Linked DNA regions of Homo sapiens: region 2 is linked to region 1. Evidence: fine-mapped expression QTL. A gene starts in region 1. The other region holds a variant in brackets. All regions are shown on one strand. Distances are between the middles of the regions. Region 1 holds the start of FICD (FIC domain protein adenylyltransferase). Region 2 overlaps SART3 (spliceosome associated factor 3, U4/U6 recycling protein).

What was found. PIP is the estimated chance that this variant, and not a neighbour inherited with it, causes the effect. A credible set is the group of variants that fine-mapping cannot tell apart.
Region 2: its variant is the best candidate, but not a certain one, in a credible set for the expression of FICD in whole blood (INTERVAL, PIP 0.56).

Annotation. Positions count from the first base shown.
Region 1 is chr12:108,512,507-108,517,886 of GRCh38, forward strand. It overlaps FICD (FIC domain protein adenylyltransferase), which reads left to right and starts at 2,771. Exons shown (of 3, transcript NM_007076.3): 1 at 2,771-2,855; 2 at 4,409-4,767. The coding sequence starts at 4,467. RefSeq lists a silencer at 561-746 and enhancers at 2,243-2,302, 4,205-4,705, 4,394-4,493, 4,706-5,206.
Region 2 is chr12:108,533,368-108,538,747 of GRCh38, forward strand. SART3 (spliceosome associated factor 3, U4/U6 recycling protein) reads right to left here. Exons shown (of 19, transcript NM_014706.4): 8 at 4,698-4,836; 9 at 4,121-4,228; 10 at 3,341-3,418; 11 at 3,147-3,205; 12 at 1,992-2,101. Among named protein-coding and RNA genes, the nearest start is that of FICD, 21 kb to the left of the region's middle. The variant G/A (reference allele first, on the strand shown) is at 2,607.

The sequences.
Region 1 (5,380 bases):
TCTGGATTTACTACTCGTAGCCTAAGCTAATTAAAGACTTAACAAAGAGAGGAGGGTGCCTTTAGAAGCAGAGGACTACATTGCTTTATACCTGGGTGTGGACAGGGGTCCACTAGTCCCTTAATACCCAGCTCAGTGAGGATAAGTGACTTGTTCAAGGTCACCCAGCCAGCAAGCGGTGGGCCTTGCATTTCAACGCACATCTGTCTGACCCCAGAGCTTCACTGTTTTCTAACATACTGTCACCCATAAGCTGGCTGCCTACCAGGCCCTCCTCTGGGGAAGGTTTTTACAATGACATTACTACTTGGGCCATCAGGAAGTGCAATTCAGAGGACTCCAAGAGAAAAATGTTTATGACCTTGGTTGAAAAGATTAAAAACGAGAAGCCACCAAAATAATCACCACCCTGATTTTGTTCCTTAAAAACTATGGATCTTCTGGCCAGGCGCGGTGGCTCAAGCCTGTAATCCCAGCACTTTGGGAGGCCAAGGCAGGTGGACCACTTGAGGTCAGGAGTTGAAGACCAGCCTGGCCAACAGAATGAAACCCCGTGTCTATTAAAAATACAAAAAAATTAGCCGGGTGCAGTGGCACATGCCTGTAATCCCAGCTACTCAGGAGGCTGACGCAGGAGAATCGCTTGAACCCAGAAGGTAGAGATTGCAGTGAGCCAAGATCACACCACTGCACTCCAGCCTGGGTGACAGAGCAAGACTCTGTCTCAAAAACAAACAAACAAACAAAAAAACAATTAGCCTGTGTGTGCCTGTAGTCCCAGCTACTAGGGAAGCTGAGATGGGAGGATCACTTAAACCCAGGACATGGAGGTTGCAGTGAGCCAAGATCATGCCACTGCACTCCAGCCTGGGCAACAGAGTGAGATCCTATTTCAAAAAAGATAGATAGGTGATAGATAGATAGATAGATAGATAGATAGATAGATAGATAGATAGTTTGCTCTGTGCCAGATGTATAGAATCTCATTTCACCCTCACATAAAACCTTGTGAAGTGGTAATATCATCACACTGTGCACAGTTTACAGAAAAGCCTAGACAGATGATCAACAAGATCAAGTCACTTGCTGAATGTGATTCAGTTTGCAAGGGGCAGAACTGGGATTTGAACCCAGGTCTGTGTGACTCCCAACAGTGACACCCCACAACCACCACCTAGCCCTGCCTCCAAGAGCAATACACGTCACAGAGGAGGTCAGATCTTGAAGCATCAAGCCTTCTGCAAATCCTGAACTGGATGCCAAAAGCAAGGTAGGCTGTTTGTCCCCATTTTACAAGTGGGGAAAGTGAGGCTAGGAGTAACGTGCCCAAGGTGACACGGAGAGTAAATGGCAAAGTCTGAATTTGAGCTCAGGTCTCTTTGACTCCCCAGAATCTGAACTGCTAACTTCTAAATGCTTAGCGTTTCTGGGGCACCTCCCTAGATGTTTAATTTCAGTATTTGTGGATTAAGATGGAGGTTTCCATTCTCTGCTTCAAGGAAAAAATTTCTCTCTGGGAAGCCAAAAGAACTAGCCAGGTCCTTCTGGAGAGGATACAAATTAAAAAGTCAGGGAGAACCGAGGGGGTGGCTTGCGCCTGTAATCTTAGCGCTTTGGGAAGCCGAGATGGAGGGAGAGCTTAAGGTCAAGAGTTCGAGACCAGCCCGGGCGACATAGTGAGACCCGGTCTCTAAAGAAAATAAAAAATCAGAAATAGGTCGGGCGCGATGGCTCACGCCTGTAATCCCAGCACTTTGGGAGGCCGAGGCAGGCGAATCTTCTGAGGTCAGGAGTTCGAGACCAGCCTGGCCAACGTGGTGAAACCCCATCTCTACTAAAAATACACAAATTAGGCGGGCGTGGTGATGCGCGCCTGTAATCCCAGCTACTCGGGAGGCTGAGGCAGGAGAATCGCTTCAACCTGGGAGGCGGAGGTTGCAGTGGGCCAAGATCGTGCCACTTCCCTCCAGCCTGGGCAACAGAGTGCGATTCCGTCTCAAAAAAAAAGAAAGAAAGCAAGACAGAGAGAGAGAAAAAAAAAGAAAGAAAGAAAGAAAAGAAAAGAAAAGAAAATTCGCCGGGCATGGTGGCATGCACCTGTAGTCCCAGCTACTCGGGAGGCTGAGATGGGAGGATTGCTTGAGCCCAGGAGGTGGAGGCTGCAGTGAGCTGCAATTGCTCCACCGCACTCCAGCCTGGGCGACACAACGAGACCCTGTATTTTATAAGAAAAAAAAAAGTTGTTTAAGTCAGGGAGGAAAAGACACAGAGAGGAAAAGAGTAAAGAAGAAGAAGGCGGCAAACTCAGCAGCATGGGGTGGAGGCTAAGAACAGGGGCTGCGCAGTCAAGCAGGCTAACCGGGTGAAGGGGTGAAAAGCATCAGCATCTTCATTTCACAACCGGGAAAAATGAGGCACACGACAGCGGCTCCGGGACGAAGAGACCCGAGGAAAAGACCGCCGTGGAACTTCCAGTTTCCGGGCCCGCCACCTAGTGTGCCCCAAATCCGCACGCCCATCGGGTTTCCAGCACCTGCTCCTCCTGCCTGTGGCCTAGGCCCCGCCCCTCCCGCTGCTTATTGGCTGCTACGTGAACGAGACAAACGCAAGCAACAACCAATGGGAGTGGCCCACGGCGCGTCTTTCCCGGGGAAGCCGACGCGGACGCGGGAACCCGGAAATGCGAGGGAAGGACAAGTGGGGAAAGCCAATCCGCCGCGACGAGGGCTGCGGGCGGTTCAATGGCAAGTCGCCGGGGGCGGGGCCAGAGGCCGGCGGAGAAGGAGGACCCGGGAGCCGGCGGCCCGGAGCTGGGAGCGCGGGGAAGGCGGTTGGGGTTCTGACAGCTGCGCGCGGTGAGAAGGGGAAAAGCCCTAGGGGCTCGAGAGGATGAAGCCGGGAAGGGTGCGACGGGGCCGCGAGCCCTGGGCGGGGTTCGGGAAGGGAGGCTCTGCAGTCTTGGAGGGGACTCAGACCGGTCCCCTCCCCTCTCCGGGCCTCAGTTCTCCCTTTCTAGGGAAGTGTGGGGGAGAGATTCGCGCCTCCCAGAACGCACTCCTTCCCTGCACACACCCCTGGCACCGGCGAACTGCCCCCTTTCCTGTACCGCCCCGCCCAGGAGCCTGTCCCCTCGGGAAGCCCGCCCAGACCCCTGGACCCGCGCAGCACTCCAGGCGCACCCCTATTAAAGCGCACCCCAAGCCATTTCACATGTTCTGTGGCAATGGGCCAGGATCCCCATGAGACTCAGAACCCCGTGATCCATCAGTCATTCCCGGGTCAGGACCAGCCCAGAGCAGGTGCACAGGCCCTGCTTAGTAATAAGGTAGAAATCGAGACCTGGGGACCGGGTTCAGAGGCCCTGGGGTTTCCTTCCGGATGCCTCTGTTTACCTCCTGTGGGCCTTCTGGAATTTAACTTATGCTCTCTGTGTCTTGGTTTCCCTTGTCTGTAAAATGGAGCTAGCGGTAGCTCTTCCTTCATAGGGTGGCATGAGGGTGAAACGAGGCAATGCGTGGCCAGTACACTGCTCAGCACCTAGGACACCATAGTTGCTTAATAAGTGCTTATTGTTAGCATAGTGTTTGCATGCCTGGCCCCACCTCCACTCCCACTGCCAGCCCCAAGCACATACAAGCCATGTTGTCACTGAGGCCAAGCACTGTGGCCCACAGCCTGAGTTCCTTTCGAGATGCTCGAACTGCTCATCTTCTTGATGGGGTCCCTTCTGGACAGGCCAGAAATGGAAGGCCAGAGAGGGGAAGGGCACTGTGGGAGCTGTGGCTGAATATCAGGGTGAGGGCAATAAATGAGGCCACCCAACAATTGTGCTTATCAAAGATTGGGCGTCAGAACTGCTGTGGCTGATCTGCCTGGGTGTCTGTCAGTCATTTATGTCCCAAATGTTTGACATATGTCCACAAATCCAGTGTTTGTGGTCAGAAGCCACAGGGATATATGGGAAGGGGGGACACTTTAGAGCCGTGGGGTTCCTGAGTTCAAGTCCTAAGGCTGTCACTTGCTCCCGGCGAGACTTTCGGCAAGGGACTTCACCTCTCTGAACCTCAGTTCCCTCACCTGGAGAAGGGTGAAAACATCAGCTCAAGTCGTTGAAGATTGCAGGAGGTGACCCATGTGAGGCATTTGGTGCTTAGCACACGGCCTGGATTATGGCAAGTGCTCATTAATTGTTGGACCACAGCAGTGTTTTCACATTCATACTGCCCAGGAGGTGGCACCAGTCCTTCTAGGCTGGCCCCTCCTCTAGTGAGATCCAGTCCTTGACTTGCCCCCACCCCATCTCTCTAGTGAGCTAAAAGAGCAGAAGTCTCCAAACCCATCTTCCCAGCTGAAGTCACACTATGTCCTGAACGTGTCTGTTTCTCCTGCGACTCTTGGCTCCTTGCAGATCCTGCTCTCTCTCAGCCGCCTGTGGACATGCGCAAAGGGCCCTCTCCTGAGTCCAGATGATGCTCATACCAATGGCTTCAGTGATGGCGGTGACTGAACCGAAATGGGTCTCGGTCTGGAGCCGCTTCCTCTGGGTGACGCTGCTGAGCATGGTGCTGGGGTCCCTGCTGGCCCTGCTGCTGCCGCTGGGGGCTGTGGAGGAGCAGTGCTTGGCTGTGCTCAAAGGCCTCTACCTGCTCAGGAGCAAACCGGACAGGGCGCAGCATGCCGCCACCAAGTGCACCAGCCCGTCCACGGAGCTCAGCATCACCTCCAGGGGCGCGACGCTGCTGGTGGCCAAGACCAAGGCCTCTCCAGGTAAGACAGACTGGCCGTCTTCCTCAATGCTTGTTAACTGGATAGACAGACATAGAATGTGTCATGTCCTGTATGTGGGGCATCGGGGTATTGTGAACAAGTCAGCCCTGAGCTCCTAGTATAGACAAGGTGATGTGACTGAGACAGTGTCACAAGTGTGGTGATGGGGAAGCATAAAGGGCTGTAGGAGCATACCAGGAAGGCTCCCTGGAGGAAGTGACACCTGAGCTGGGACCCAGTTGTTAAGTAGGAGTCATCCAGGGTGAAGGGCATCCAAGGAAAAGGACTCCAGGCAGAGACCAGAGGTTAGTTGTCATAACTGACATAACTGTCGTAAGAGAGCCTGGGGGCATTCGAGGAACTAAAGGAAGTTGAATGTGTGGGGCTGATCCTCAGGTGGCCAAGAGGGGCCAGGACAGGAGGGCTAGGGCTAGAGCAGGCTCCCCACCTCCACCAGTTCTCTGTGGTGGGGACTGAAAGTGCATTGTTAGATGGTGGTGGCATCCCTGGCCTCTCCCCATGAGATGCCTGTAGCACTCCCTCCACCTCCTCAGTTATGACAACTAACCAGGTCTCCAGACGTCACCAAATGTCCCCTGGGGCGCACAATCAA
Region 2 (5,380 bases), 21 kb after region 1:
TGAAGTACAATGGTTATTGCCAAAAAAAAAAAAAAAAGCATATTACTGTTTGAGTTGCAAGCTAATCAAGTCATTTTTTTCAAGGACACCATTTTTACTTGAAAGGAAACTTGAGTGACAAACCACGGTCAGTTACTCAGACCTGGGTATTTGGCAGACATTTTTGAAAATTAACAAAGTGAGGCTGCCACTCTGGGGAAAACCACTGACATTATTTGTTGCATGTGATAGAATTCAAGCTTTCAAGTGAAAATTAGAATTTTGGAAAACTTGTATCTGCCACCACAAGTCTGACAGCTTCCTACTTAAAATACTTTTCAACTAAGATCAATACAGATATGAACAAATACGATTTTTTAATACTATAGGATGAAATATGTCAACATTGGAAGAGCTGCATGATTTAGTGAATTGGGATTTTTCCAAATAATGTCGTAGAATTGTGGCATCAAGTAAAAGATAAAATAGACAAATGGGTATTACTGTAACAGACTCTGTCAATATGGTTTCAGATTCCACATGCAACACTGAAGTTTTGCTATAATATGTATGAAAGAAGAATACCCACAATTATCTGAAAATGCTTCTAAAATACCTTTCTTTCCTAACCTCTTCAATGAAAACAACAGATCACAACAGACAGAATCAGTAACAGACATGAGAATTTAGCTGTCTTCTCCTAGGTCAGAATAATGTGCAAATAAATATATTTGCAAAAATAGAAAACACTGCCACTTTTCTCACTATATTATTTTGGGGTCTGGAAAACAGTCACTGCTCAAAAAAGATATTAATGTTAGATAATTTGTTATATTTAAATAAATTAAAATGTTTTTTAGATTTCTCAATTTATAAATTATAAATATCAATAGATATAACTCACATACATAAAAGTTTTTTGGGATCCTCCAATTTTAAGAGTGGAAAATGGATCCTGAGACCAAAAAAATTGTGAACTGCAGATCTAGGGGGATATTCAACAAGCTTTAACAGTGGTTATCTCTGGGGTGGGATTGTAAGAAACTGTCACGTTTAGCCGGATATGGTGGCTCATGCCTGTAATTCCTACACTTTGGGAGGCCGAGGTAGGAGGATCACTTGAGGTCAGCATGACCTACATGGTGAAACTGTGCCTCTTCTAAAAAAAAAAAAAAATCCAAAAATTAGCCAGGTGTGGTGGTGCACGCCTGTAATCCCAGCTACTCAAGAGGCTGAGGCAGAAGAATTGCTCGAACCCAGGAGGCAAGGTTGCAGCTGAGACTGCACCACTGCACTTCAGCCTGGGCAACAGAGTGAGACTCCCCACCTCCCCCGAAAAAAGAAAAGAAACTGTCGCTTTCTATCACATATTTTTGTAAATATTCTAATTTGGGCACACAGTGTTTTTTAAATAGGGAAAAAATCTTCAAAAAAGAAAACCCAGCAATGTAGCAATGTTATGCAATGAACAACGTTCAAGACAGACTGAAAAGTTGGTCACATTCTTTATGTTTTCCCCATGTTATAAATATTGTTAGGCCTATCTTATTTCGTTCAAATAGTTTTAAAGGCTTGTAACACATGCATGCTATAATTGCATTTTCATTACAAAAAAATTTAAACATAGAAAAGTCTCAAAGAATGGGTCATGGTTATGACTGGGTCAGTAATTTGAGTTTTTTTTCTCTTAGCTTTTTAGTATTTTCTACTTTTCTATAAAAGCAAATATAAAAAACAAATAGCTCCAAAAGGTCAAATAAAATATCATGCCCAAAAATCAAGACAAAAACAAATTAAAAGAAATGCATGGCTATAAGAGTTCCAGGCACAAAATATCATGTCTGGTTCTCTAGCCCTGCCCATTAAAAATGTACCCACTACTGAAAGAGACAGAATGAAAGAAAACAGCCCAGTTCTAAGGAGCTAGTCCAAGCTGGTAGGAGTCAGCCAGGAGTGAAGACAGGTGCACAGCTGACAAGCACTGCCTCCCTCCCCACCCCGAGATCAGTTACCTTTCCAGGTTGTAATACTCTAGCCACATGTTGGCGTACTTGGCATTTCCTCTGGTCATGATGCTATCCCAGAGTTCCCGAGCTTTCTGCATGTTATTGCACAGTCGAGCCTAAAGTGCATCAGCAGGCTGTTAGGAGACCTGAACCTTATGACGTCGACACCCATCATACAACACACTTCCAACAGACACACATAAAAAGCACCCCACAACTATTAGTGTTACAGATGTCCCTGGGCATTCCCCAGGCCTCCCTCCAGTGGTAAACGACCCAGCCCAAACACTTGAGCCTTTCTGCAGCCACAAGCTAATCTACCTATGTTTCCTGAGAACCGAGAGAGGGAGCGCACGGTACTTACTCGACAGTACTAGATAGTCACGTTTTTTATTTTTATCAAGCTTAACTACAAGTGTTTGAGAGACAATGTTAAAAAAAAAAAAAAGACTGATCTAGTATTAAATGCACACTCTGCTACTAATACTTACAAACTGTGACTTGGGCAAATTACTTAACCTGTAATTCTCAGTTTTCTCATCTTTAAAATGGTTAAAAGATAAGCATCCCATATAAAAACTACCTGACAAATGTTAGTTTCTTCTATCTGACGCTCCCTCC[G/A]AGGAGAAAACATGATTAGAATTGTTACAATCCTACCTGCTGATCAAGGGAGGTTCCGTGTCTTACTGACCTTGGTGTCCCTGACCCAGTAATGACATTCAAGTCATCATATCCTCTAATTACTTGTCAAATCATCTGTCTTCTACATTAGATAGAAGCCTTACTAGCAAAGGAATTTTATCTGTCTTATTCCCACAGCACCTAGTACAGTGCTGACAAACAGTACACGCTCACTGTGCTCTCACAAATGAAGCAAAGAGGCAGAGACAGAAGTAAACGAGTGAATACCTAGCATCTAAACATTTACTGCACAACTTCTAGCTGGGAGCTAATATTTTCACCAACATATTTACAAATATATGTCAAGCTAGGTAAATAACATGAATCCTTGTGGAGCCTAGACCATTACCTAGGTAATAACATAAATCCTTATAGAGCTTAGGCCATTATCTGGGATTCTGACTCAATTTTAATTAAAGTTTAATAGGATGCTATTAAACAATGATGGATGAAAGTGCTAGATGTGTCAAAAACATTTACCTCAATCCTAGCCCAGTTCTGCATAATCACGCAGCTTGGATCACCACTCTCATTGAAACCTTCAAAAACAGAATTAGTAAAATTAGAAAGGAACTTGGAGACAGATAGTCGCTGGCTGAAAAGGTACATCAACCAGGAAATAGTACAGACAAGGAAATACAACTGGGCAAAACCACAGGCTGGGGCATACTTACGCTCTTCCACCTCCTGCTTCAGATACTCCAAGGCACGAGTAAAGGCGGCCCTCAACTCCTCCAGCTCTTTACTGGAGTCTAACGGAAAGTGCAAAAAAAGGCTTTAGGAAACCACATAGCCTGGCTTTGTTTTATTTTTTATCCTATGCTGAAACTGCCTGGAGACCCACTATGTACCTGGCATCATGCAAGGGACACAGAAATAAAATTGCCAATTCCTGCCCTCATCACATAGTTGGGGAGAAAGAAATTTGAACAGAATAGAGCATGGACAGCGTGGTGAAAAAGGCAAACACAGGGTGCTGTGGGGGGGAGTCTCCCCCAGCTGGGGTGACACAGGCAAACAAGAGAATGGCTAAAGGCTACCTGTATGAGGTGACAGCTGACATGAGTGTGCAAGTACAAGTTAGGGGTTTTCTGGTTGTTTTCGGGGGGACATGAAGGGGCAAAGGATCCCACAGAGGTACAAAGATTTTTCTAAAACACAGCAGACTTATTTCAAGAAGTATTTAGGATAAATAAAAAGACCTGAAAGGAGAAATGAGAGCTAAGACTAAAAAGGCTGGCAGGAGCCAGTATAAACGATTACTCTCTTGCTTTACAATCCACATCATGACTTGTTAAAGACAGAAATTGCTAAGATTTCTGGGGGAAAAAGTCACCAATACCTAGTCTACATCATTTGCCCAATCACAATGTATCTGGGGAACTGGGACATCTCGCCAAAAGTTGTATTAAGAACATGTTCAGCTCTAAAGTGAAAAACATGTGCTTAAATACCTTGTTTGAAATCAACCCTTCTCCTCAGGTAATCAAGGTATGCCTGCCAAATCTCCACATAATCAGTGGCCTGGATGAAGCCGGCATTCAAAGCTTTCTCGAAGGTTACTGGAGTTGGAGAAAAGTCAGGATTTGTTACCAATTCAAATGGAAACTAATAGAAAGTCACTACATTCTACTGACTATAAAACACTACATGACTTTAAAGACTAATAGATGCAACAGAATGAAATGAGCTAGACAGGAATGTTGAAGACAGAAGTTGCTACAGCACTCTACAGACTGTGTTCTAGAAAAAACTTCTTCCACAAGACGCCCTGCAAGAAAAGTTCCAGATCAAGGAAGTTTGGAGAAAACACTACAACTTCTTAGAAAATACAATGAATATTAGCATGTTAAAAAGCTCTAAGAAGCCACAAATATAACCAGTTCATCTCTCACTCAGAGCCCTTTTTGTCACTACACTCCATAACCCAAAGAAAACCCCAGGGAACACTGATGTAATGACTTTGTCACCGCTCTCTGTTTTTCACTTGGGACAAATAGCTTAGAAGTTCTCCCACAAAAACATCCGCACCAGAAATTACTTGATGATCAACTCCATGTCTCTCCATGGCCAAGAGGTACCGACTCCATAAGGCAACTGTCCAGGGGCAGTTTCTAATAGCGCGGTTATGTACAGATAAAACCAAATCCTTTACTTTCAGTTGTCGATCCTATGATAAAGAATTCCAGAGTTAGGAAATTACACTTTATTAAGCATTCACCATCAACAAGACATTGCCAGCACGACCAAGTGATGAAAGAAATGTCCTTATAAACATCTCTTGTGACCTGGTTTCCTCAACAACAACAAAAAAATCACTAAGGGGAGTGGAGGAGAAGGAGAGGAGCAACTTACAGGTTAAAACAGCCTTAAAAGACGTCAGCCAACCCTACTGGATAGACCTCATTTGGATCCTTTTATACAGACACACTGAAATATTTTATATACACATACTGAAATATTTACCAACGAAATATCATTTCTGGATTTGCTTCAAAGTAACACAGAAGGGACAAGTAGGTGAGACTACAGATCAAAGTAAACTAAAGCTATAAATGTTACTAATTGTTGAAGCTGGGTGAGGGGTACAGAAGTTTCATTTTACTGATCTGTCTACTTTTATATGTTTACATTTTTGCCATAATAAAAAGTTAAAAGAAAAATATCAAGTTGTTATAAGTCCTCAACACAGACAATATGCTCATTTTACTTAC